7 linked regions of the Homo sapiens genome follow. The protein of the gene in region 1 purifies or fractionates together with the protein of each later gene. This does not show direct contact. Each region holds a gene or a part of one and is shown in the gene's direction. Other genes may lie near its edges. The genes, in order: USP32, ANKHD1, HDLBP, EIF2AK2, ABCD3, OXSR1 and GAPVD1.

Region 1 (3,500 bases):
CCTGTCTCTACTAAAAATACAAAAATTAGCTGGGCATGGCGGTGGGAGCCTGTAGTCCCAGCTACTCAGAAGGCTGAGGCAGGAGAATTGCTTGAACCCAGAGGCAGAGGTTGCAGTGAGCCAAGATAGTGCCACTATACTCCAGCCTGGGCAACAGAGCCAGACTCCATCTTTAAAAAAAAAAAAAACAAAAAACAAAACGTATTCATGTAACCAAACACCACCTGTTCCCCAAAAACCTATTGAAATTTTAAAAAAGAGAAAGATAACGCTTATGAAGTACACATTGTCTTTCTGTCATACTGCCACCTAAGTTATAAATATTTATGAACAACTATAGTAGGCCAGATATTTGTGATATGTTATATAACTACAAAGAAGTTGTTTTTTTAATTGTTACTCATTTTTATCTCTGTATTTGTTTCAAGTTTACTAACCAAATAACAAAAACATTTCCTCCTCCTTACACAGAACTACCTTACTCTTCTGGATGATGAGGATCATAAATTGGAATATTTGAAAATCCAGGATGAACAACACCTGGTAATTGAAGGTACAAGATGGAAGCATGCATCTATATTAAATTTTCAAGGGGAAGAATTTAAAGAGTTACTAATAACCCATTTTATAATTTTCTCCAAAACAACTATTATTTGATTATTATGTTTTTATGATAAAGAAACCCTTTGGAAAAAAAAGAAAAAGAAAACCCTTTGAACTCTTATGTAATCCTACCATACAATTTAGATTGCTTTAAAGGGAAAATATTCTGTTTTTAGTCATTGACTGACAAAGAATGGGAATGGTAGATAAAAAACAAGTGAATTCAGTTTACACATTTATAGTTCCTTAAAATTTTCAAGTTGCTGCTTTGAGTTTGAGTAAAAAGAACAACTTTCTTGCATAGTTAGTAGCACAGGCTTTCATTAGTCACCAACATTGGCTACTCACTGACAGAGCTATTTGTATATTCATAGATTTACACACTGGCATGCACATGCCATTAAAAACTTTTTAAGTGTATCTTTTCCCATCAAGTTTTGTGGCAACATTGTTAGCTGCCTTTGTATTAAAATGAATAGGCCGGGCGCAGTGGCTCACGCCTGTAATCCCAGCACTTTGGGAGGCTGAGATGGGTGGATCACTTGAGGTCAGGAGTTCCAGACCAGCCTGGACAACATGGTGAAATCTGTCTCTGCTAAAAATACAAAAATTAGCTGGGTGTGGTGGCACGTGCCTGTAGTCCCAGCTACTCAGGAAGCTGAGGCACGAGAATCAGTCAAGCCCAGGAGGCGGAGGTTGCAGTGACTCAAGATCACATCACTGCACTCCAACCTGGGGGGACAAAGCCAGACTGTCTCAAAAAAAAAAAAAGGAATAAATTACTCTGACAGTTGTTACAATTTAAGAAAGAATTGTAATTTCTAATGTTTTAAGTATAAGAAATTCCATTGTTTCTGAACTTTAATTACTTCTGTAGATGGTTGAGTATAATTTTACTTCAAGTAGGTAATTGAGGGATAAGATTATTCAAACCAAGTGACTTTAAAGTCCTCAATATGAAGAGTAGGAATGGTTTTAGAGCCAATTACAGGCATGTGCTGCAAAAAGATGTTTGTCAACAAAAGACCTGTATACAGCAGTGGTCCCATAAGATTATAATACTGTATTTTTAGTTGTGCCTTTTCTATGTTCTAACATGTTTAGATACACAAATACTTACCATTGTGTTACACTTGCCTACAGTATTCAATGCAGTAACATACTGTACAGGTTTGTAGCCAAGGAGCGACAGCCTATACCATACATAGCCTAGGTTTGTGTAGGTACACTCTGTGATGTTCACACAAAGACAAAATCACCTAATGATGCATTTCTCAGAATATAACCTCGTCGTTAAGCAATGTATGTACTAAAATTAACTAGATTTTAAAACTTCTGATTTAGGAATAAGATGTCTTTAAAAAAAAAAAGCAATCGAATGGGTATAAATTAGATAGATAAGAAATTAACACATTCCTATCTGTCCTTCCAGTTCGCAACAAAGATATGAGTTGGCCTGAGGAGATGTCTTTTATAGCAAATAGTAGTAAAATAGATAGACACAAGGGTAAGTCTCCAGTATTATTTTTTAAAGAGATTATTTTAAATGTATTCTTTTTTTTTCTTCTCTCAACTGTTAAAGTGCTAACAACTTTTGGTTTTCTAGTTCAAAAGTAATTAGGGCCTTCTTCTTTTTCTTTTTTCCTGAAGCAGCATTTGATGTTGGCAAACCCACCATCAAATTATTTTCTAAATTTCTTTCTAACTCTGCAATTAAATAATTTATATGTTTTAAAAGACATACTAGAAGAAGAATTGTTTGAATTATTTTGAAAAATCATAGCAATTAAAAAGAATAATTGCTGCTTCTGGGTTACAAATGAGCATGGATCATCACTGTTGCCAGACACTCCATGAAAAGCCTTCTCTAGCATTTCAGAGACCTGCTAGAGAATTATTAGCACCATTTAGCTGATTATGAGAGTTATAAAAAACCTTTTCATTGAATATAAGTAACTGTTTGTGCCATGGCATATTACTACAGCTAAGCTTTGGTTCTCATATTGTTTGTTCCAGTTCCCACAGAAAAGGGAGCCACAGGTCTAAGCAATCTGGGAAACACATGCTTCATGAACTCAAGCATCCAGTGTGTTAGTAACACACAGCCACTGACACAGTATTTTATCTCAGGGAGACATCTTTATGAACTCAACAGGTAATCTTTCTGGAGTCACTGGCCTCTTAACCTGTGACTTTGATATAAACCCAATATCACCTAAATTTCCTCTTTTTTCACCCTGTGGGAGAAAGATTTTATCTTATTTGCCCTATTTAATATGAAATAGGCCAAGGAATACATCTCTTGTTTCAAAAAGAAAAGATATTTTGATGTGAGATGCTAGGCATTTTTGCGCCCACATGATTGTGATTTATGAGAATCTTTGGCAACAAATTTTCCTCTCAAACTTCTAGGACAAATCCCATTGGTATGAAGGGGCATATGGCTAAATGCTATGGTGATTTAGTGCAGGAACTTTGGAGTGGAACTCAGAAGAATGTTGCCCCATTAAAGCTTCGGGTAAGCAGGTTAAAATAATATAAAAGTATTTAATTCCTAATAGTTGTTTAATCATTTTTCTCTGCTTGTTTTTTGTGTTTAGCCTTTTAACTTAATAAATGTTTTTGGATCCTTCACTTGGTATAAACAAAAGGTCAAATTCTTTTGCTTGTTTAAATATATGCAAAATTACTACTGTATATGTAGTGGGTAGGATAAAGACCAAAGGTACACTCTAAATTCGGGATGTCATTCATTTTACTAATTTGTCAAACATCTTATATGAAGAGTAAACCTTTTTTGGTAATACTTCACTATTAGCAGTATTCTAACTGCAAGGTGGACCTCAGAGTCTTATTAATTACATCCAATCCAATCCATTTTCAACGTAACTAAGATA
Region 2 (3,500 bases), on another chromosome or scaffold:
CATTTTGCATATTCTTATAGGTGAAACAAACATATGTAATAATTATTCCTATTTGTAACTAAATAGTTAAATTATGTTATTTATGTGATGACAGAAGCTGGAGAAATTTGTATTGCCAAGATGGTTATATATGTTGGTGGGGATGAGCTGGGTAGCTCATGTAGAAATATATCTGGGCATCTTAAACTTTGCTCACTTATTTAAACTAGTAATCTACTAAACTGAGTCATTCACACTTACGAATAGTATCTTTGAATGGGATCTAGTCATATCAAAAATTCTAGAGAGAAAATATTTTCCAACACTTAAAATGCTTACATTTTTCTTTAAGTCCTACGTGTTTTTGACTGACTTTTAATCTGGGTGCAAATGTAAGGTTATTGCCATCACTGATGCTTTGTTGATTTTTTTGTATATTATTACTGATTATATGTTTTTTTCTGAGTTTTTCCTTTCTTGAGTGAATAATGTTTTTATTTTTCAATACAATGAATAATAGTATTGACAATCCTATAAAATATCTGATAGTTACATCTATTGAGCACCCACCATTTGCTAAAAACACTGTGTTAAATGCTTTATATACAGTATCTCTTAGACTACTCACAACATCCCTGAGATAGGTCCTGTTTCCCCCCGTGGTCAAACTCCATCTCTTAAGAAACATAAGAAATTTTCAGAGATATAAAATACATAATTTCTTTTAACTCAGTTTTCTTTCTTTTTTTTTTTTTTTTTTTTTTTTTTTTTTTTGAGATGGAGTCTCACTCTGTTGCCCATGCTGGAGTGCAGTGGTGCGATCCTAGCTCACTGCAACCTCCGCCTCCCAGGTTAAAGCGATTCTCCTGGCTCAGCCTCCCGAGTAGCTGGGCTTACAGGCGCGTTCCACCACTCCCAGCTAACTTTGTGTTTTTAGTAGAGACGGGGTTTTGCCATGGTAGCCAGGCTGGTCCTGAACTCCCAACCCTCCTGACCTGAGGTGATCTGCCCACCTCAGCCTCCCAAAGTGCCAGGATTATAGGCGTGAGCCATCGCTCCTGGACTTAACTCAGTTTTCAAACCACATTTTGAGATCTCAAATAGAACTTCAATGTTCATTTTAAAAATAGTTGGACTTTCAGATACTGATTTTTTAACAAAGTTTCAAAATAAATATTGAATTTAGGAAACACATACTCCCTGCTATTTATGTGAGAAATACTTGAACTTGTCTCCCTCCCCTCCCCCACCCTTTTTTTTAGATGTAGTCTAGCTCTGTCACCCAGGCTGGAGGGCAGTGGCGTGATCTCAGCTCACTGCAGCCTCCACCTGGGTTCAAGCAATTCTTCTGCCTCAGCCTCCCAAGTAGCTGGGATTACAGGCATGTACCACCACACCTGGCTAACTTTCTGTTTTTTTTAGTAGAGATGGGGTTTCACCATGTTGGCCAGGCTGGTCTCAAACTCCTGACCTCAGGTGATTCACCCGCCTCGGCCTCCCAAAGTGCTGGGATTACAGGCGTGGGCCACTGCGCCCAGCCCCCTTTTTTTGAATTGTACACAGGATATTTTTATCTAATTGACTTTTTTACAAACTAAAATCTAGAATTCCTTTTATTTACTTTTATTTTTGGAAATTTTTTTTCCTCCCTGTTGGCAATGCAAAAAGCTACTATTTAATGTATGTGCACTAAATATCAGGTGCTGTGTTAAGTATTTTATCTGCATTGCCTCAGTGGTCTTTCCAATAACCTTCCAAGGCAGGTACCATTATTTTCGCCATTCTACATATAGGGAAAATTGAAGCTCAGAGAAGTTAAATTACTTGCCCAAGATCAGAAAGTCAGTGTTGGAACTAATATTTAAATGTAGGTCTGTCTGATTCCAAAGCTTGTGATTTTACTATTACTACATATTACTGCTATGGAAATTTCTGTTTTTGTGTTTTTCTATGTACAAATAACCTTACTCTTTTAAGTGGAATTTAGCAATATGAATATTGTTTTTCAGCTGTGAGTACCAGAGTGCCCACTGGTTCCAACAGTTCTTCTCAGACCACAGAGTGTCTTACACCTGAATCCTGTTCGCAGACTACAAGCAATGTGGCTTCCCAATCGATGCCTCCTGTGTATCCTTCAGTTGACATTGATGCACATGTGAGTAGATTGCTTTATTTAAACTTATTTTGCACATTCTGATCTTCTTTGGAAAGGAAAATTATTCTGCATTTATTGTGAAAAGAAATATTATTTGCTCTTAAATTGATAACTTCTGTTAAAAAAAATTTTAACTTATTTTTTTCTTCTCCTAGACTGAGAGCAATCATGACACAGCATTAACACTAGCTTGTGCAGGTGGTCATGAAGAACTTGTATCTGTGCTCATTGCACGGGATGCCAAAATTGAACACAGAGACAAAAAAGGTAAATATCAGTCAGAAATAAAATCCAAGTGTAGTTACATCAGAAAATAATTAACTTTTTTATTATTGATAAATAGTTCCTAGACTATCTCAGTGATAAGATGGATAAGTATATTTCAGTTAGGAATATCTGGATTCATTATTCTGCGGAGCCAAATAATTCTCAAAACATTCAAAAATTAGACGTAGATCATTAGTGAAATAGAGCAAGTTGTGGTTGCCTTTGTTAATCCAAAGGTAGTTCATACAGAGGCATCAAAGTTCATTATGAGTATAAACTTTAATAATTTTTACCGACTTAGTTTTTTAATTAGGTGTTTATGGGTTTTTTGTCACTAACAAATTAGGGTTTAGAGCAGTTTTATGTTAACTCATTATCAGTGTCTGCCCTGAAGGATTTATTTTGCTAAAATACTAGAGAATTGTAAACAGTGGCTTTAAAATAAAATAAAAAACATAAATTTGTTTAAGATTTTCATTTTCTGATTTAGGTTTCACACCACTAATCCTGGCAGCAACAGCAGGGCATGTTGGAGTTGTTGAAATCCTTTTGGATAAAGGTGGAGATATAGAAGCACAGTCTGAACGAACTAAGGATACTCCGCTTTCATTGGCATGTTCTGGTGGACGTCAGGAGGTGTGTTAATGTTAATTTTCATTTTGTAAATATTTTGCTTGTATTTTAAAATATGCATATGATTCGTATTTTAGCTACATGAATAAAATTTGCATGTATTTTGTGTGTTTGTTTTTCTGAGGCAGGGTCTTGCTCTGTCTCCCAGGCTAGAGTACAGTGGTGCAATTACAGCTCGCTATAACCTTGAACTCTGGGGCTCAAGCAATCCTCAGCCTCCCAAGTAGCTAGGGCTGTTTTGTAGAGATGGGGTCATGTAATGTTGCCCTGGCCGATTTCAAACTCCTGGCCTCAAGCAATCCTCTCTCCTCGGCCTCCCAAAGTACAGGGATTATAGTTATGGGCCAGCATGCCTGGCCCTGCACGTATTTTAACATGTTCCATATACTTTCTGAGGAATGGGTACTTCTGTTAACTTTTATGGGAATGTAAATGCCCTTTTTTTTTGGCGGGGGTTTGTGGAGGG
Region 3 (3,500 bases), on another chromosome or scaffold:
CGATCTTGAGGTTCTGTACCTGGCAGCACGCGGGTGGTGCCTGAGGCTGTCAGCTCTGCTGGGCCACGGTGGGTGGGGCTGCTGCCTCCCACTCTGGCATTTTGCTTCAATCTGGACAGAAGCTTCTTGGGCTGCTGCTCTGTTGTCTCTAGGTTAGGTCTTTCTGCTCATTTCCTTTCCAGGCATTTGTCCCTGTCCTCTAGTCCTGTTGCGTGATGATGGTTCCGTGTTGTGATTTGTCCCTGTCCTCTAGTCCTGTTGCGTGATGGTTGTGATTTGTCCCCGTCCTCTAGTCCTGTTGCATGGTGGTTTTTGTGTTGTGGACATGTTGTTTTCGCCGATTGTGGGCTACAGGTGTTTTGTTACCACGTTTCCTTCTCTATGCCCTGAACTGTCTGCTTGGTCTGCTTGTCTGCTATCCCAAGTCTGGTATGGTGTCTCCTGTCCATTTGTGTGGCCCAAGGAAGGCCTGAGCAGGTGGGATCTCTGAGTGAGGGAGGGGCTCGCTGAGGAATGCCAGCCAGCCTCCAGCCTCCAGCACAAAGATGCCTCCAGACTGTGGCCCACGTGGGCAAAGAAGCAGGAAGCTGAGGGGCTTGGGGCTTTGTCTTTGCCCCGCTGTCCTTGAGTCCAGAATTCTTGCCTGTTAGTGTCTCTCCTTTGTCTTTGAGGACAAATGTCCTTTTTCGTTCTGTAATTCACTGTCTTTTGGGTAGAGTTTGGGAAGAGATGGAAGCTGAGTGGACATAGGTTTTTTGTGGGGTGTTTTTTTTTTGTTTTTTTTTTTTTGAGATGGAGTTTTGCTCTGTTGCCCAGGCTGGAGTGCAGTGGCGCAATCTCGGCTCACAGCAACCTCCGCCTCCCGGGTTCAAGCAATTCTCGTGCCTCAGCCCCGGGAGTAGCTGGGATTACAGGCGTGCACCACCACGCCCGGCTAATATTGTATTTTTAGTAGAGGCGGGGTTTCTCCATGTTGGTCAGGCTGGTCACGAATTCCGGACCTCAGGTGATCCGCCTGCCTCGGCCTCCCAAAGTGCTGGGATTACAGGCGTGAGCCACCGTGCCCGGCCCTGAGTGGACATTGTTAACCTCTTGTTTTAAATCAGCCGTGACGTTGCTTTCCATCTTCTCTCCTGAGCTGTTTTCCTCAGCAGTGGGGGCCGGCTCTTGCCCCTGACGGGAATCCCAGTAAGGCATCCCCTTTTCTGACTACATTCTCCTTTTTTAGCCCCAGGACCAAATTACCATCACAGGGTACGAAAAGAACACAGAAGCTGCCAGGGATGCTATACTGAGAATTGTGGGTGAACTTGAGCAGATGGTTTCTGAGGACGTCCCGCTGGACCACCGCGTTCACGCCCGCATCATTGGTGCCCGCGGCAAAGCCATTCGCAAAATCATGGACGAATTCAAGGTGAGCCGGCTGGAAGCACAGTGGGTGAGAATCCTCTCTCACCGGGGGCACCTGGCTGGCCAGAAGAAAGAGCAGGGCATGGCCTTCCCCTCAAGATGATGAGGCCACAACCCCAGGGCTGGCAGTGGAACTGTCCTCATGGACACCACGGGTCAGTGCAGGCGACGGCCTGTGTGAGGCTGCACTGCCACGGTGGCCATTAGGAGGGCATCTCCTTGACAGCTGCCTGGCGAGCTCGTCCTCTGTGGGTGGGAATTTCATGCAAGAGCGCACAGTACGTGCTGCGGCCCTCTGTCTGCTGGGAACAAGGTGCTCCTGAGATACACCTAACTTGGTGTGGTGATGAGGCTGACTGACTTCAGAACAACTCTGAAACCAGATTTTAAAACGTTTGCTAACTCAGAAAATGCTTCACTAGAAATTGACACATAATTTTAACCCTTTTCCTCGCTTGGAGTCCCCTCATCTGACGTTGTACACCCCTTCCAGGTGGACATTCGCTTCCCACAGAGCGGAGCCCCAGACCCCAACTGCGTCACTGTGACGGGGCTCCCAGAGAATGTGGAGGAAGCCATCGACCACATCCTCAATCTGGAGGAGGAATACGTGAGTCTCTGTGGGCCTTGGAGCCCTGAGGCGCCCTGGCACGTCCACCGGCCTGAGGCCCAGCCAGGAGCTTCAGGGGACAAGGTGGCACTTGTGTTTCCAGAGGCAGGCGAGGTGCAGGGGTGAGCAGGCGGGCGGGATGCTGGGGGTGCTGGGCAGACTGACCCTGTCTTCCTGTCTTCTGCCTGCAGCTAGCTGACGTGGTGGACAGTGAGGCGCTGCAGGTATACATGAAACCCCCAGCACACGAAGAGGCCAAGGCACCTTCCAGAGGCTTTGTGGTGCGGGACGCACCCTGGACCGCCAGCAGCAGTGAGAAGGTCAGATGCGGGCTTCTGCCCTCCTGGGTCCCAGGGAGGGTGGGCGGGCAGGCGGGCTTGGTGTCCTGAGGGTGGCAACTGCGTCGGAAGCTGCTTGCGAGTTGGGGAGCATCCCCTCCTGAAGCCGTGTCCTCTCTCTGCACAGGCTCCTGACATGAGCAGCTCTGAGGAATTTCCCAGCTTTGGGGCTCAGGTGGCTCCCAAGACCCTCCCTTGGGGCCCCAAACGATAATGATCAAAAAGAACAGAACCCTCTCCAGCCTGCTGACCCAAACCCAACCACACAATGGTTTGTCTCAATCTGACCCAGCGGCTGGACCCTCCGTAAATTGTTGACGCTCTTCCCCCTTCCCGAGGTCCCGCAGGGAGCCTAGCGCCTGGCTGTGTGTGCGGCCGCTCCTCCAGGCCTGGCCGTGCCCGCTCAGGACCTGCTCCACTGTTTAACACTAAACCAAGGTCATGAGCATTCGTGCTAAGATAACAGACTCCAGCTCCTGGTCCACCCGGCATGTCAGTCAGCACTCTGGCCTTCATCACGAGAGCTCCGCAGCCGTGGCTAGGATTCCACTTCCTGTGTCATGACCTCAGGAAATAAACGTCCTTGACTTTATAAAAGCCAAACGTTTGCCCTCTTCCTTTCCCACCTCCCTCCTGCCAGTTTCCCTTGGTCCAGACAGTCCTGTTTGTGGAGTGCAATCAGCCTCCTCCAGCTGCCAGAGCGCCTCAGCACAGGTGTCAGGGTGCAAGGAAGACCTGGCAATGGACAGCAGGAGGCAGGTTCCTGGAGCTGGGGGGTGACCTGAGAGGCAGAGGGTGACGGGTTCTCAGGCAGTCCTGATTTTACCTGCCGTGGGGTCTGAAAGCACCAAGGGTCCCTGCCCCTACCTCCACTGCCAGACCCTCAGCCTGAGGTCTGGTGAGTGGAGCCTGGAGGCAAGGTGGTAGGCACCATCTGGGTCCCCTGTGGCCGTCACAGTGTCTGCTGTGATTGAGATGCGCACAGGTTGGGGGAGGTAGGGCCTTACGCTTGTCCTCAGTGGGGGCAGTTTGCCTTAGATGACAGCTGGGCTCTTCTTCACACCACCTGCAGCCCCTCCCTGCCCCTGCCCTAGCTGCTGTGTGTTCAGTTGCCTTCTTTCTACCTCAGCCGGCGTGGAGTG
Region 4 (3,500 bases), on another chromosome or scaffold:
AAAATATTAAAACTCTTAAGGTCAGTTATAAATGTAGAAAAAAATGCAAAAAAAATTTAAAAATATTTAGTACACTGTAATTTAAAACATTAAAAATAGAATTAAAGTGTTTTATTTCATTGTGAAAACTAAGTAGTTTGAATAGGGATTGCCTTTTTTTTCTGCCAAGTGACTTATGATACTGAGTAAGCATCTTTTCTATTCATGGCAAACTGTCATACTCCTTTTAAGTTTGGGTGAGCTTCCAGCCTTTTATTGCTTGTGCTTTCAATGTTGTGAAGTATTTCTGTATTCACATTAAATGCTCTTTAGTGTGAAGTTTGTTTTTTTTTTTTTTTTACCGTCACTTCCTCTGGGACATATTTATCTTTATTGCAATCACTTTTCTTATTTGTGTTGATAAGTTTGCCTTCACTAAGCTCCTATGAATGCACAGCAGGAAGAACATTCCCATGATCAGTGACTTCTTCTACAAATCCATTTATGTTTGATTCAAATTTCACTTCCAGTGTTATCATTTTTCGTTGCTTTGTTGGACTTTCATCTTTGTTGGCCAGTTCTTTCGATTGTTCACTTCTATAAAATGTCAGGTGGAGGACAAAGAGACAGTGTAACTACGTGCTCTGCTGTGAGTGAACTGATTAACAGATGCACAGGGACCAACCACTGGAAGAATTTGAAACAAGTAACACGACTGGTCACTGATCATGAAGCATATCTGTTATTTACATCGTGATTTGTAGACTGAAGAACTAGCAGAGAAGTTTGTACTTCCTGTAATTACTCAGAGTTATACTGTGCTACCTAAAATTTTAACCTAGGTTTAAACAACACCAGTTTCCTTACCAGTTTCCTTTCCTTCCTGGTAAGGAAACTGGTATTTAAACTAAATCTAGGTCACTGAAATTTGTGCCATGGGAACCGTGCACATTGAGGACCTGCCTACACCCTACATGTTTATATTGGTCCAGGCAGGCTTAATGCTGACTACTGAGAAATAGGCTATCTGAATTTATATCAAATAGTGAATCTTAAAGCACCCAAGATGAAAAATTCGTGCACATTGAGGTGCTTTTAAAATCTTTGTCATTTGACAATCAAGCTTAAAATGTATCTTAGAGTAACCGAATTTTAGAAATAAAGACCTTTAAAGGCCCCATAGTTTGATACCACAGATTATCCAGCATGTTTATAATGAATTATTTCTCCTCCTTCAATTTCAGTTTGCTCATACTTTGTGACTTGCGGTCACAGTGGCATTCAGCTCCACACTTGGTAGAACCACAGGCACGACAAGCATAGAAACATCCTAAACAATCTTCATCGAGGCATCGAGGTCCATCCCAATAAAAATCAGGAGACCCTGGCTATCATAGACCTTAGTCTTCGCTGGTATCACTCGTCTGTCTGAACCAGCGGTTGCATTTTTTTAAGCCTTCTTTTTTCTCTTTTACCAGTTTCTGGAGCAAATTCAGTTTGCCTTCCTGGATTTGTAAATTGTAATGACCTCAAAACTTTAGCAGTTCTTCCATCTGACTCAGGTTTGCTTCTCTGGCGGTCTTCAGAATCAACATCCACACTTCCGTGATTATCTGCGTGCATTTTGGACAAAGCTTCCAACCAGGTACAAGCGGTCTTCCGAATTTTGCACTCAGAAAAGTGGCATCATCTAAGTCAATTACATGCAAATTCTGGGGGGCTAGTTTTTTGTGTATGTTAAATGGGTCACAACACGACTTCTGTAAATCCTCAAATCTGTCAATATAAATTTTTATGTGATGAAAGCAAATTGTATTGTTCCTAGAAAGTGTCCTTCCAGTTCTAAGTTGAAGTAAAAGCATGTCATTTGATGACAATTCTTGCAACATCTTAAAACCTGTGTGACAAGTATAGTAGGTTTTATGGCACTCATTTGTAGTACGAAGCTGGACTGCAACTATCGATCCATCATTGTTGATTCTAGCATATTTTCCTTGTTTTATTTTGTCTAGAGATCTAGGTCACGGGCTGATCACCCTTAGCTTGAGCTCTCCTCCGCCTGGCTTCCGGCAGGATCCACGTCCACACAGGCACACTTGCCTGCCCGTTCATTTCCCAGCCTGTCCCCATGCTACCACTCCACTTCACTTATTATATATACTCTAAATCTTTTTCTTCTCAACATAAAACATTCTACAATCCTGCAGCCTTTTTACTTTTTTAAGCAGGTAGGCAAACATGTAGTTGATACTCAGTGGAAGCACAGAGCAGAGTTAAAGAGAAGGACCCCCTTTCACTGACCAGTTGAGTTTTTTTTCTTTCCTTTATTTTTTAAAACAATTTCAAAATTGAGATGGGGTTTCGCCATGTTGCCCAGGCTGGTCTCGAACTCCTGAGCTCAGGTGATCCGCCCACCTTGGCTGGGATTATAGGCGTGAGCCACCACACCTGGCCAAGTTGAGTTTTTAAAGTAGAAAATTTTGGAGAAATTAACTTTATTGTGCAGTGAATGAGAAAGAAAGAACGGTTTTGAAAGAAAGTCTCTGCATTTATGTGAGACTGAGATGAGTCCTATAAAGGGGAGTCTCCCCAACCCCTCTGTCTCCTAAACTGCATTGGGAAACTCAGATTAAATATGTTCTGTGAGCATCACTCATTCAAATGTCTCTTCCATTGTAGGATACGGGAAGAAGAAATGGCTGGTGATCTTTCAGCAGGTTTCTTCATGGAGGAACTTAATACATACCGTCAGAAGCAGGGAGTAGTACTTAAATATCAAGAACTGCCTAATTCAGGACCTCCACATGATAGGAGGTAGGTTGCTATAAAAAATGATATGGCAGCCATAAAAAATGATGAGTTCATGTCCTTTGTAGGGACATGGATGAAGCTGGAAACCATTATTCTCAGCAAACTATCGCAAGGACAAAAAAACCAAACACCGCATGTTCTCACTCATAGGTGAGAACTGAGCAATGAGAACACATGGACACAGGAAGGGGAACATCACACACCAGGGACTGTTGTGGGGTGGGGGGAGGGGGGAGGGATAGCATTAGGAGATATACCTAATGCTAAATGACGAGTTAATGGGTGCAGCACACCAACATGGCACATGTATACATATGTAACCTGCACGTTGTGCACATGTACCCTAAAACTTAAAGTATAATAATAATAAAATTAAAAAAAAAAGAAAAAAGATATGACCTTATAAATGTAAGCTGGGGGAATGGCAACTCTGGCACAACTTTGAGGTCAACACTTTAGTTTTGTGAGAGTGCTCTTGGCATAAAGTGGGAACCATGGTGGAGCCACAGTTGACTCCAGAGAGAAAAGAGGGTAGAAACCTTTCCATGCTTCAACAAGACATGCTGCTTTACTGTTTGAGGTGACTGCTTAAATGCTATATTGAATGTAGGTTCAAACCCTCAAAGGTAGTCATAGGAGGTAGTGATGACTAGAGTACTTGTTTTTAGATAGTGCATGAGTTGTATAATATTTTATGAATATTCTCTTTG
Region 5 (3,500 bases), on another chromosome or scaffold:
CCTTAAATTAGCAACTATCCCCCTTTCTCAAATTCCCTGAGATCTCTAGAATATTAATCCTTCCCTTTCCTTACAATTGTTCAGTCCTTTTCTGTCTCTGCCTCCTTTCCTGTCCAGTACAGACTTCATAATCCAGGGTGTGGCCCATAGGAGATAAGATATATTTCTTAAGGAATGAACAGTTCATCCCTTCCCCTTAACTTCCTTTCCCACTTTTTGTGTCATCGTATTACCTAAATCCCAGCCCAGTTATTTGCCTTGGCACTTCTCTAACCGCTCTTCTGAGCACAGCTAAAAAACATCAGATGGGCTCACAGCATGGCTTAGCAATCATTTTACTTATTTTTATCCTTCTCTCATTTTTCATGACAATCATTTTAAAACTACCAATTTTGGGTTTTCTACCCCGTTACTTAACCCACTGCACTTGGCAGAATAACTCGCCTTCTACTTTTCAAAGAAAGATAGGCTATTATTTCAATTAAATGACAGCTAATTTTTATTGAGTGCTGAAAAGATGACAGACAGTATGTCAGGCACCTTACACAGGTGATCTCATTTCATCCTCACAACAGTCCTGTGAGGTAAGAACTGGGAATGCCCCCCTAGTTTTTTTTTTTTTTTTTGAGACAGAGTCTCATTCTGTCGCCCAGGCCGGAGTGCAGTGGCACAATCTCAGCTTACCGTAATCTCTGCCTCCCAGGTTCAAGAGATTCTCCTGCCTCAGCCTCCCAAGTAGCTGGGATTACAGGCATGCACCACCACGCCTGGCTAATTTTTGTATTTTTTTTTGTAGAGATGGGGTTTCACCATGTTGGCCAGGCTGGTCTCGAGCTCCTGACCTCAAGTGATCCACCTGCTTCGACCTCCCAATGTGCTGGGATTTCATGCGTGAGCCGCCGCGCCCCATTTTACAGAGGAAATTGAACTTTTGTGCAATTCAGTAGCTGGCCAAGCAAAGACAGCTAGTAAATGTTAAAGCTGGTGGTGGGGGCTTTGTCAGGCTTAGGCAAGCAGTATGGCTGCAGTGTGCATATGCTTATTCACTTTACAACAAGCTTGTCCAACCTGTGGCTCACGGACACATGCAGCCCAGGACAGCTTTGAATGCAACCTAACACAAATTCATAAACTTTCTTAAAATCTTATGAGATTTTTTTGTGTGTGTAATTTTTTTTAAGCTCATCAGATATCGTTAGTGGTAGTGTATTTTATGTGTGGCCCAAGACAATTCTTATTCTTCCAGTGTGGCCCAGGGAAACCAAAAAATTGGACACTCCTGCTTTACAACTTTCTTGTATTGTGGCATTAAGTAGCTGACAGCATAGTGGGAGCGAGAGAGACACATGTTGAGAAAATGTCCATGTCATGTAGTAAGTGTGGTGATGAATGTACGCAGAGAGTCCTTTGGGAGCAGAGAGGAGAGGCATTGGTGGAATGCCCTCAGATAACCATTCCTCTTAATTAACTGTGTGCTGCTCTGTCCTGACCTCCCTACTTCCGCTGTCTTGGAGGATATGTCATCCTTCTTGAGAAAGGCAAATACTTCCATCTATGTTTATGGAGCCTCTGTCTTCTGACTTTATCACATCCTTTTCCTTCAGTTATATCCCCTCCCGCAGCCCCCACCTACATTTAACCTCTTCTAGTCCTTCTCTTGTGGAAAGACATTTTTCAGGTCTCTTTGATCTAAAAAGCAAACTCTGCCTTAGCCAAAGCTTCTCTGTGATCTGTACCTTTCATTTTCTGCACAGTTGAACTTCTTCATAGTCTATACTTGCTGCCTCCCCTTCCTCACTTCATGCAAACAGGTGGAAAGCTGTTTTAGTCATTCATTTATTAGATAGTTGAATGCTACCCATATATAAGTGTCAAGTACATGGTAGTGATTAAAACAGTCTCTGCTTTTCTGAATTTTTTTTTTTTTTTTGAGGCAGTCTCACTGTTTCACCTAGGCTGGAGTGCAGTGGCACAATCTTGGCTCACTGCAACCTTCACCTCTCAGGTACAAGTGATTCTTTTTTTTTTTTTTTTTTTTTTTTGAGACAAAGTCTCACTCTGTTGCCGAAGCTGGAGTACACTGGCACGATCTCAGCTTACTATAACCTCCACCTCCTGGGTTCAAGCGATTCTCCTGCCTCAGCCTCCTGAGTAGCTGGGACTACAGGCACGCATCACCATGCCCAGCTAATTTTTGTATTTTTAGTAGAGACAGGGTTTCACTATGTTGGCCAGGCTTGTCTTGAACTCCTAACCTTGTGATCTGCCTGCCTCAGCCTCCCAAAGTGCTGGGATTACAGGCGTGAGCTGCTGCGCCCGGCCAGGTACAAGCAATTCTTGTTCCTCAGCCTCCCAGGTAGCTGGGACTACAGGTATGCACCACCATGACTGGCTAATTTTTGTATTTTTAGTAGATACGAGGTTTCACCATGTTGGCCAGGCTAGTCTCGAACTCCTAGCCTCAAGTGATCTGCCCTCCTCAGCCCCACAAAGTGCTGGGATTATATATGAAGTGCTTCAGAGGTGTTACAGAAAGGACCCACTTGGATTGTGGCTAGGGATGAGGGTAGGTTTGCCTGAGATGACATTATAAGCAGAAATCTGAAAGCTCTAAGGAACAGAATAAGGCATTTGAGACATCAGAAAAGAATGATGTGTGTTTAAGGCTCTAAGGTGTAAAGCACCTTGTTCCTAGCAGTTGAGAGGAGGCGGTGTTGGCTAGAATGTTGGGGTTAGAGCGTGAGTAGAAATAAGATTGTGCAGGTCTTGTAGACTGTGGTAAGGAGTTTGAGTTTTAAGTGAAATGGGAAGTTGTTGAAGGGTTTTAAGCCAGAGAGTGAAGTTCCCTGATTGACATTTGTGAAAGATGTTCTCTGGTTACATGGAGAGTGGACTGGAGAGGAGCAGCAGAAGTGGTAGGAGGCTACTTGTAGTCTATCCAGACAGGAGATGAGTGTGCTCTGGGCTAAGGGCATGTTTGTGGAGATGAGGAAAAGTGAGTGAACTTGAAACTTCACATTTCTTTCTTGAATGGACTTTTTAGTTCATTTTAAAAATAGCTGTGGGAGAGTGAAAGGGAAGAGGAAAAGGGAAGGACCAGACCAGGGAGGACTCCTGGCTTTCTAGCTGGAGCAACTGTTTGATAGTTTCATTTGCTGAAGTGTTCAAGATTAGGGAAGGGAATGGATTTTAGAGGGAAAATCTAGAAATTACATTTGAGTTTTAGACTTTTAACGTTTGAGAGTCCTGTGAGATACCCAAGTAGAAACTCAAAGAGGAATTTTTATTTTTAATTTTTTAAATGTTTTAAATTTAAAATGTTTGTTTTTTGAGATAGCGTCTTGCTGTTTCAGCCAGGCTGGAGTGCAGTGGCCTGATCATAGCTCACTACAGCCTTGAGCCTTGACCTACTGGGCTCAAGCCCTCCTGTCTTAGCCTCCTGAGTAGTTGGAACCACAGATGAACACCACCATGCTTGGCTAATTTTTTTTTTTTTTTTT
Region 6 (3,448 bases), on another chromosome or scaffold:
ATGTTTCCCTTTGAGTGGCCACTCTTCCTCTGTCCATGCCAGGAAACCTCTGACCCCAGAGACCCTTGGCTATTCATAAGAGAAACTATTAGCCAGTCTGACTCTAGCTGTTTACCCAGCCCCCCTCTTTTCTGGAATAAACACCTTCGTCAGTCTCCTATTTGTATCCTAGGGACCTGTTGCCCACTGCCTACCTTCCCACTATCCCATGTCTGTTTTATTTGCTACCTGCAAGTTTGTTTATAAATAATCACAGTTTCTCATTTTGTTTGGTTCTTAGGCATCTGGTGTCGAAGGCTCAGATATTCCTGATGATGGTAAACTGATAGGATTTGCCCAGCTCAGCATCAGCTAAACCACAACCCTGGAAGAGGCGGCCTAAGGAGATTCCACACATGCGTATCTCTGTTGCTTCTATTGGCCTAAACCCACTACTGCCAAAGAACCCAGCAACAAACCTCCCGGCTAGGAGCTTTAGAAGTCTTTATGTTCTTCCTGCCATCATTCCTCCTTTTCCCACAGGGAAAGAAAAGTTGGATCACTAGTGGCCAGCATCCCCAGAGTTCCGTTAGTAAACTTACTTCATATGTCCCCTGTCTTCCTCCATCTGAGAAGTGGCCCATGTGCTTCAAGGCCCAGGAGGGAGATCTGTCAGCTCATTCTTGCCTTACTCCAATGATGGCCCAGGTGGAAAAGTAGCAGCTGTATCGGGCTTCCTCATCCTGCCTGTTCCCCCACACCTGCCAGGATATGGACATCTTGGGATATCTCTTTACCACTGAAGTAGAATTGATTGTTCAGCTGGAGCCCAGAGAATTTAATTTAATGTTTTTTCTTTGTACCTGATGTGAATTCTAGCAACCTTTGTTAGGAAAAAGCACAGCCTCAGATGGAGGCAGCCTAAACTGTGTTCTTGTTTTGTTCATGGTGTTTCTAAGCGTTTTGCTGAAGCTGCTCTCAGGCACCCCCTTCTTCATTGCTCTCTCCAGAAAGGGTTGCTAGCCTTAACTTCAGCTGGTGCAAAACATCTGACTGTAGCCGAACTTCAGCCATCAGATCCTTCAAAGTGGAACTTTGGATTGTTTTTACAGACAACATCGAGTAATGGCTTGTAAATGTGAATTTTGCCAGAGGTGGTTTTTGAACAGGAAAATCATAATTCATATCATTGGAGAAGTATTTATTTTCAAATATCAAATTGAAGAAAAACTCAATCCTCCCATGAAAATCAGTTCGCCTGGCCTCCAAGTCGTGAGGAAATGGGTATGCAAGGCTGAGATTTCTACAGCAATAAAGGAGACACACACTGGGCCAGAGAGGCCTGCCTTCTGCCTGCTCTCCTGCACTGACCCTTTGGAGGGGGTCTCTGTGTGCTGAAGCTAACTCAAGATGGAAAGTGAAACCACATGTGCCGTGACCTTTAGGTTTTATGAGTAGACAGTGTTCATTTGATTTTCTACAGAAATAATATAAATTATTCTTTAGGTTTAAAAAAGAGCACTCATAATGCAATATGTGAATAATCAGTGAGGTTGATTTTTCTTTTTTCCTACCGTTTCATAGTCTTTGTCTAACTGCTAGTAACCCTACCGAGTTTTATATATGAGTGGGATACTCAATCTGGCCTTAAAAAGATACACAAAGATGGGCTGTGGGTCCCTGGAAAGGGGGAGAGTTGCCCTTTACAGAATCACTCGAGCCCTTTCCAGCACTGTTGGTCTGATGAACAAGGTTGTTTTACCTTATTTTCTCTTGGAACATATCTGAAAACCTTCCCCACAAATAACTTGTCACACCTTTTGTTTCATTCTGAGTCTTTAGTTTTAGTCATGGGCTTTCTTCACCTGCTCTAGGTGCAAAGGCATGTTGGGAAAGAGATGGATGTTGGGGAGGAAGAGAGGAGATGGATTTCAGTTGGGAGTTAGGAGGAGAGTAGGTGAGATGATCAGACACCGGAGTTCAACGTCCCAGCAGTCTTGGTAAAAGGAGGGAGCCTGCTGAGCCAGGAGGGAGAAAAGAAGATTGACCAGCTTGCTAGAAAAATACTTAGCTTTTCTTTTTCTTTTTTTGTGGAGGGGGGACGGAGAGGAACAAGGATGGGGAGGTAGGAATGAGGTATAGAAAAGAGATAGCATCTTCTTTGGCACAAGACTAGTGGCTTACCGCTTACCTTAGAGTTTTGTTTTTTTTTTTTCAAACCCATCAAAATCTACTTATTTATGAATCCAAGGGGTGGCAGCATCACTCTGTTCTAGCATTCTTTGTGGAGATGGTCTGGTGCCTAGCTGGGAGTGAGCAGCAGCCCATCCCCTGTTCACTTTCTCTAGCCCATCATTACCTGTGAACTGCAGTGGGGCAGTCATGGCAAATAGAATTGGGCTGGGGTTTCTCCTTCTTTTCAGTTCATTGTTTGCCCTGCTAGGAATTAGAAGACAGACACCATGTCCCAGGACAGTGTTACTTCTTCTGCATGATGTGTGGTAGACTCCCTTTGCTGGCTTGTGCAGTGATACTGAGAAAATACATGAACAGAAACTGCCCAGGTGGAACAGCACGTAACCTAGTGAGTGACTGTACTCCTTTCTAGGAATGCTGATTCAGAGTGCACCTCTTTGACTAGGTCCCAGGATCCCCTTGTCCCTGGAGTAGGGACTAACTATAGCACAAAGTAATATGTGCCAATGCTATTTGTGAAATGTTTGGTCTTTCTAAACGACTAAAGGATTTGTTGGGTTTTTGCTTAAGTTTTGAACCAAATCCTAGAGCCAGCTGATAATATTTAATAATCTGGAGGAGAGAATAATGATGTACCAATAAGTGGAGATTCCTCCTTATGATGTATGCTAGGTTATGGAAGATGTAAAATATTCAACTTTTTCCTCCTTTTTTTGGACTTTGTATTTTACTGCATGTTTTCTTCATTTTTAATCAATAAAGAGTAAATTGTCCTTAGTGGTGTATGGACGCTTTATTTTAGTGGCCGTTGGCGGAGAGCTGTGGGTTGTGGGTCAAGGAATCACCACCAACTTTAATTGTTCATGCGAATAGAAGCCAAAGTACATATAAACTGTAAAGTGTGTCTGTTGATCTACAAATTATCTAGAACCATTAAAGCCATTATATAGTTGGGGAAACTGCAACCCTAAAAGGGAGGGATGAGATCAGCCCAAGGAATTGGATAGGATGGGATATGGAACTCCTTTTATTATCTTTTGATCTTTTTTAAATCTTTGGTTTTGCTTATGCTGTTGGGCAAGGAAGGATGCCAGATTCAAGCCCTTGGGAGTCTCTTTCGAAAGTTCAGAACAGGGCTGAACTTATCTCTTCTTGGCTTTGATATTGCAATGGTGAAGTTACATGTAAGATTCTAGGCTCCTTTGTATTCCTGTTATCCTCCCACTGCAGGAGGAATCTTCCCTCATCATCTGCCCTTCCCAACAGCAGTGGC
Region 7 (3,500 bases), on another chromosome or scaffold:
CTTCTGCCTGGGCATCCAGGCGTTTCTATACATCTTTTGAAATCTAGGTGGAGGTTCCCAAACCCCATTCTTGACTTCTGTGCACCCACAGGCTCAACACCTCATGGAATCTGCCGAGGCTTGGGGCTTGCACTCTCTGAAGCCACAGCCTGAGCTCTGTGTTGGCCCCTTTCAGCCATGGCTAGAGCGGCCGGAGGGCAGGGCACCAAGTCCCTAGGCTGCACACAGCATGGGGACCCTGGGCCTGGCCCATGAAACCATTTTTCCTCCTAGGCCTCTGGGCCTGTGATGAGAGGGTCTGCCATGGAGACCTCTGACATGCCCTGGAGACATTTTCCCCATTGTCTTGGGAATTAATATTCAGCTCCTCATTACTTATGCAAATTTCTATAGCCAGCGTGAATTTCTTCTCAGAAAATGGGATTTTGTTTTCTATCGCATTGTCAGGCTGCAAAGTTTCTGAACGTTTATGCTCTGTTTCCCTTATAAAACTGTATGCTGGCCAGCATGGTAGCTCATGCCTGTAATCCTAGCACTTTGGGAGGCCAAGGCAGGTGGATCACCCGAGGTCAGGAGTTCAAGACCAGCCTGGCTGACATGGTGAAACTCTGTCTCTCCTAAAAATACAAAAAATTAGCTAGGTATGGTGGTGGGTTCCTGTAATCCTAGCTACTTGGGAGGCTGAGACAGGAGAATCGCTTGAACCTGGAAGCGGAGGTTACAGTGAGCTGAGATCACGCCACTGCACTCCAGGCTGGGCAACAAGAGTGAAACTCTGTCTCAAGAAAAAAAAAAAAATGAATACCTTTAATAGCACCCAAGTCACCTCTTGAATGCTTTGCTGCTTAGAAATTTCTTCTGCCAGATACTCTAAATCATCTTTCTCAAGTTCAAAGTTCCACAAATCTCTAGGGCAAGGGCAAAATGCCACCAGTGTCTTTGCTAAAACATAACAAGAGTCACCTTTGCACCAGTTCCCAACAAGTTCCTCATCTCCACCTCAGCCTGGACCTTATCGTTCATATCACTGTCAGCATTTTCGTCAAAGCCATTCAACAAATCTCTAGGAAGTTCCATACTTTCCCACATTTTCCTGTCTTCTTCTGAGCCCTCCAAACTGTTCCATCCTCTGCCTGTTACCCAGTTCCAAAGCTGCTTTCACATTTTCGGGTGTCTTTTTAGCAGTACCCCACTCTCGGTACCAATTTACTGTATTTGTCTGTTATTATGCTGCTGATAAAGACATACCTGAGACTGGGCAATTTAACAAAAGAAAGAGGTTTAATTGGACTTAACAGTTCCATGTGGCTGGGGAGGCCTCAAAATTATGGCGGAAAGTGAAAGGCACATTTCACATGGCAGCAGACAAGAGAAGAGAGCTTGTGCAGGGAAATTCCGTTTTTTAAAACAATCAGATCTCTTGAGACTTAGTATCACGAGAACAGCACAGGAAAGACATGCCTCCATGATTCAATTCCCTCCCACAACACATGGAAATTCAAGATGAGATGTGGGTGGGGAATACAGCCAAATCATATCAATTTCTAAGCAACATATTTGGATATTTACTCTGGAAATGTAGTTACAAATGAGCAGTTCCAAATAGAAGAGTGCAATTTACTTCAGCTTTGCACAAAAGCAGGTAAAGAGGTATGCCTATATTTTGAGGCTAGAACAACTAGAATATCATATTTCTTTTCTTAGTGGTGATAGGAAAGCCTACTTTCCTGGACCAGAGAAGCAGATGTAAGTAGCCTTAGGAATTGCTGTGCTTTTTCTGCTGCCAGTCCCCTGCTCATGATTATGGAGAAAAATGTAACTGAGATGCTTAGGTAGTGAGGAGGCTTCAAGGCTTAGGGAATGGGCACTCTAGTAAATGTGACATTTAGACTATAAGCAAGTAATTGGTGGGGGATGTTTGTGACCTAGTGACATATAACCTGTATTTGTTGTTATTGTTGGTCATCTGTAGCTGTCAATTTCCTATTAAGTATGAGGTCCTATAGCTCCAGTATAAAATACACCAAGTATGCAGAGGGGCTTAGTAACATTTAGTGAATTAGGTAACTAAGTCTTCAGCCCCATAGATCCTCCCAAACAAAATGCAAAATGGGTGTCTGTTCTGCAGCTGGCACCATGATCAGTCTCTACCATGTCTGCAGCCTGACATGCTACTTTGTATATGTGCTACTGAAGAGAGCACAGACATGCTACTTTGTAAAACCAGTCTGTGCAGTAATTTTTCTAAAGAAAAGTTAGGACCCTTATTCTTCAAAGAGAGTATGCACTGAATATATCTGATGTCATGCAAAGTATTTTTCCTTTTAGAAAAAGAGCCCCATATATTGCTTATCTCACTCGTTGTCGACAAGGACTACAGACCACACAGGCTCACCTGGAAAGGCTATTGCAAAGAGTTTTGCGGGACAAAGAAGTGGCCAATCGATACTTTACCACTGTCTGTGTGAGATTACTGCTTGAGAGCAAAGAAAAGAAGATCAGGGAATTCATTCAAGGTAACTCAATACCTTTAGTTTAAGCATCTCTTCACCTGTAATACTGTTGGGAAGATTTAGAAATACTGTTTTGTTTTGCTAGTTTGTTCAAGTATCTGCATGCCTTAAATACCCAATTATTTTATGGAATCTTAATAAATTAAACTTTGATGTCAAACCAATAAATTGCATTTTTCTCCTGGATTGAATATCTGTAGCTTACTTTTTAAATTGGGGACATTGGTAAATTTTTGGATCTATACAAATTTTCTCATTTTTTTTAAAAAGCCAAACATATTTTTTTTAGAAACTTTTGAGACGGAGTCTTGCTCTGTCGCCAGGCTGGAGTACAGTGGCGTGATCTCGGCTCACTGCAACCTCTGTCTCCCTGGTAGCTGCCTCAGCCTCCCAAGTAGCTGGGATTATAGGCACGTGCCACCACGCCCAGCTAATTTTCATATCTTTAGTAGAGATGGGGTTTCACCATGTTGGCCAGAATGGTCTCAATCTCCTGACCTCGTGATCCGCCCACCTCGGCTTCCCAAAGTGCTGGGATTACAGGCGTGAGCCACTGTGCCTGGCCTAGAAACATATTTTTATAACAAATTCCTTGCACTTAAACTTTCACATATTTCTTGCTTTTTCTCCTGATTTAATTATATGGCTACATATTGTCCTAAAATAAACTACACTGAAACACTTTTGGCTTTAAGATCATGGTGTCTGCATAGCTAGTGATTAAAATTATTTCTATGATTTCCTTTTTAAAATTATTTAGATAGTTTTTATTAAACTATTTAAAAATTATTATTTTGCTTTGGAGACTTTCAGAAACTCACCGCAGCTGACGATAAAACTGCTCAGGTAGAAGATTTTCTGCAGTTTCTTTATGGTGCAATGGCCCAGGATGTCATATGGCAAAACGCGAGTGAAGAACAGCTTCAAGATGCACAGCTGGCCATTGAGCGAAGCGTGATGAACCGGATTTTCAAGCTCGCCTTCTAC

The links.
Region 2: the proteins of USP32 (region 1) and ANKHD1 purify together in Homo sapiens (affinity purification with mass spectrometry, with the first as the bait; one large-scale study listed by BioGRID). This does not show direct contact.
Region 3: the proteins of USP32 (region 1) and HDLBP purify together in Homo sapiens (affinity purification with mass spectrometry; one large-scale study listed by BioGRID and IntAct). This does not show direct contact.
Region 4: the proteins of USP32 (region 1) and EIF2AK2 purify together in Homo sapiens (affinity purification with mass spectrometry; one large-scale study listed by BioGRID and IntAct). This does not show direct contact.
Region 5: the proteins of USP32 (region 1) and ABCD3 purify together in Homo sapiens (affinity purification with mass spectrometry; one large-scale study listed by BioGRID and IntAct). This does not show direct contact.
Region 6: the proteins of USP32 (region 1) and OXSR1 purify together in Homo sapiens (affinity purification with mass spectrometry; one large-scale study listed by BioGRID and IntAct). This does not show direct contact.
Region 7: the proteins of USP32 (region 1) and GAPVD1 purify together in Homo sapiens (affinity purification with mass spectrometry; one large-scale study listed by BioGRID and IntAct). This does not show direct contact.

The regions. Positions count from the first base shown.
Region 1 is NC_000017.11:60,210,634-60,214,133, reverse strand, and holds part of USP32 (ubiquitin carboxyl-terminal hydrolase 32), read left to right. Parts: intron 1-471; coding exon 472-553; intron 554-2,035; coding exon 2,036-2,110; intron 2,111-2,619; coding exon 2,620-2,758; intron 2,759-3,015; coding exon 3,016-3,121; intron 3,122-3,500. UniProt on the Homo sapiens protein: Deubiquitinase that can remove conjugated ubiquitin from target proteins, such as RAB7A and LAMTOR1.
Region 2 is NC_000005.10:140,502,833-140,506,332, forward strand, and holds part of ANKHD1 (ankyrin repeat and KH domain-containing protein 1), read left to right. Parts: intron 1-1,988; coding exon 1,989-2,134; intron 2,135-2,289; coding exon 2,290-2,401; intron 2,402-2,891; coding exon 2,892-3,037; intron 3,038-3,500. Other genes in the region: ANKHD1-EIF4EBP3 protein, read left to right, coding at 1,989-2,134, 2,290-2,401, 2,892-3,037. UniProt on the Homo sapiens protein: May play a role as a scaffolding protein that may be associated with the abnormal phenotype of leukemia cells. Isoform 2 may possess an antiapoptotic effect and protect cells during normal cell survival through its regulation of caspases.
Region 3 is NC_000002.12:241,228,673-241,232,172, reverse strand, and holds part of HDLBP (vigilin), read left to right. Parts: intron 1-1,228; coding exon 1,229-1,414; intron 1,415-1,903; coding exon 1,904-2,020; intron 2,021-2,211; coding exon 2,212-2,340; intron 2,341-2,485; coding exon 2,486-2,572; 3' UTR 2,573-3,500. UniProt on the Homo sapiens protein: Appears to play a role in cell sterol metabolism. It may function to protect cells from over-accumulation of cholesterol.
Region 4 is NC_000002.12:37,146,981-37,150,480, reverse strand, and holds part of EIF2AK2 (interferon-induced, double-stranded RNA-activated protein kinase), read left to right. Parts: intron 1-1,176; exon of another isoform or gene 1,177-1,457; 5' UTR 1,458-1,624; exon of another isoform or gene 1,625-1,987; intron 1,988-2,075; exon of another isoform or gene 2,076-2,109; intron 2,110-2,658; 5' UTR 2,659-2,674; coding exon 2,675-2,793; intron 2,794-3,500.
Region 5 is NC_000001.11:94,501,889-94,505,388, forward strand, and holds part of ABCD3 (ATP-binding cassette sub-family D member 3), read left to right. Parts: intron 1-3,500. UniProt on the Homo sapiens protein: Broad substrate specificity ATP-dependent transporter of the ATP-binding cassette (ABC) family that catalyzes the transport of long-chain fatty acids (LCFA)-CoA, dicarboxylic acids-CoA, long-branched-chain fatty acids-CoA and bile acids from the cytosol to the peroxisome lumen for beta-oxydation.
Region 6 is NC_000003.12:38,252,537-38,255,984, forward strand, and holds the end of OXSR1 (serine/threonine-protein kinase OSR1), read left to right. Parts: intron 1-280; coding exon 281-355; 3' UTR 356-2,948; downstream 2,949-3,448. UniProt on the Homo sapiens protein: Effector serine/threonine-protein kinase component of the WNK-SPAK/OSR1 kinase cascade, which is involved in various processes, such as ion transport, response to hypertonic stress and blood pressure.
Region 7 is NC_000009.12:125,352,326-125,355,825, forward strand, and holds part of GAPVD1 (GTPase-activating protein and VPS9 domain-containing protein 1), read left to right. Parts: intron 1-2,328; coding exon 2,329-2,516; intron 2,517-3,318; coding exon 3,319-3,500. UniProt on the Homo sapiens protein: Acts both as a GTPase-activating protein (GAP) and a guanine nucleotide exchange factor (GEF), and participates in various processes such as endocytosis, insulin receptor internalization or LC2A4/GLUT4 trafficking.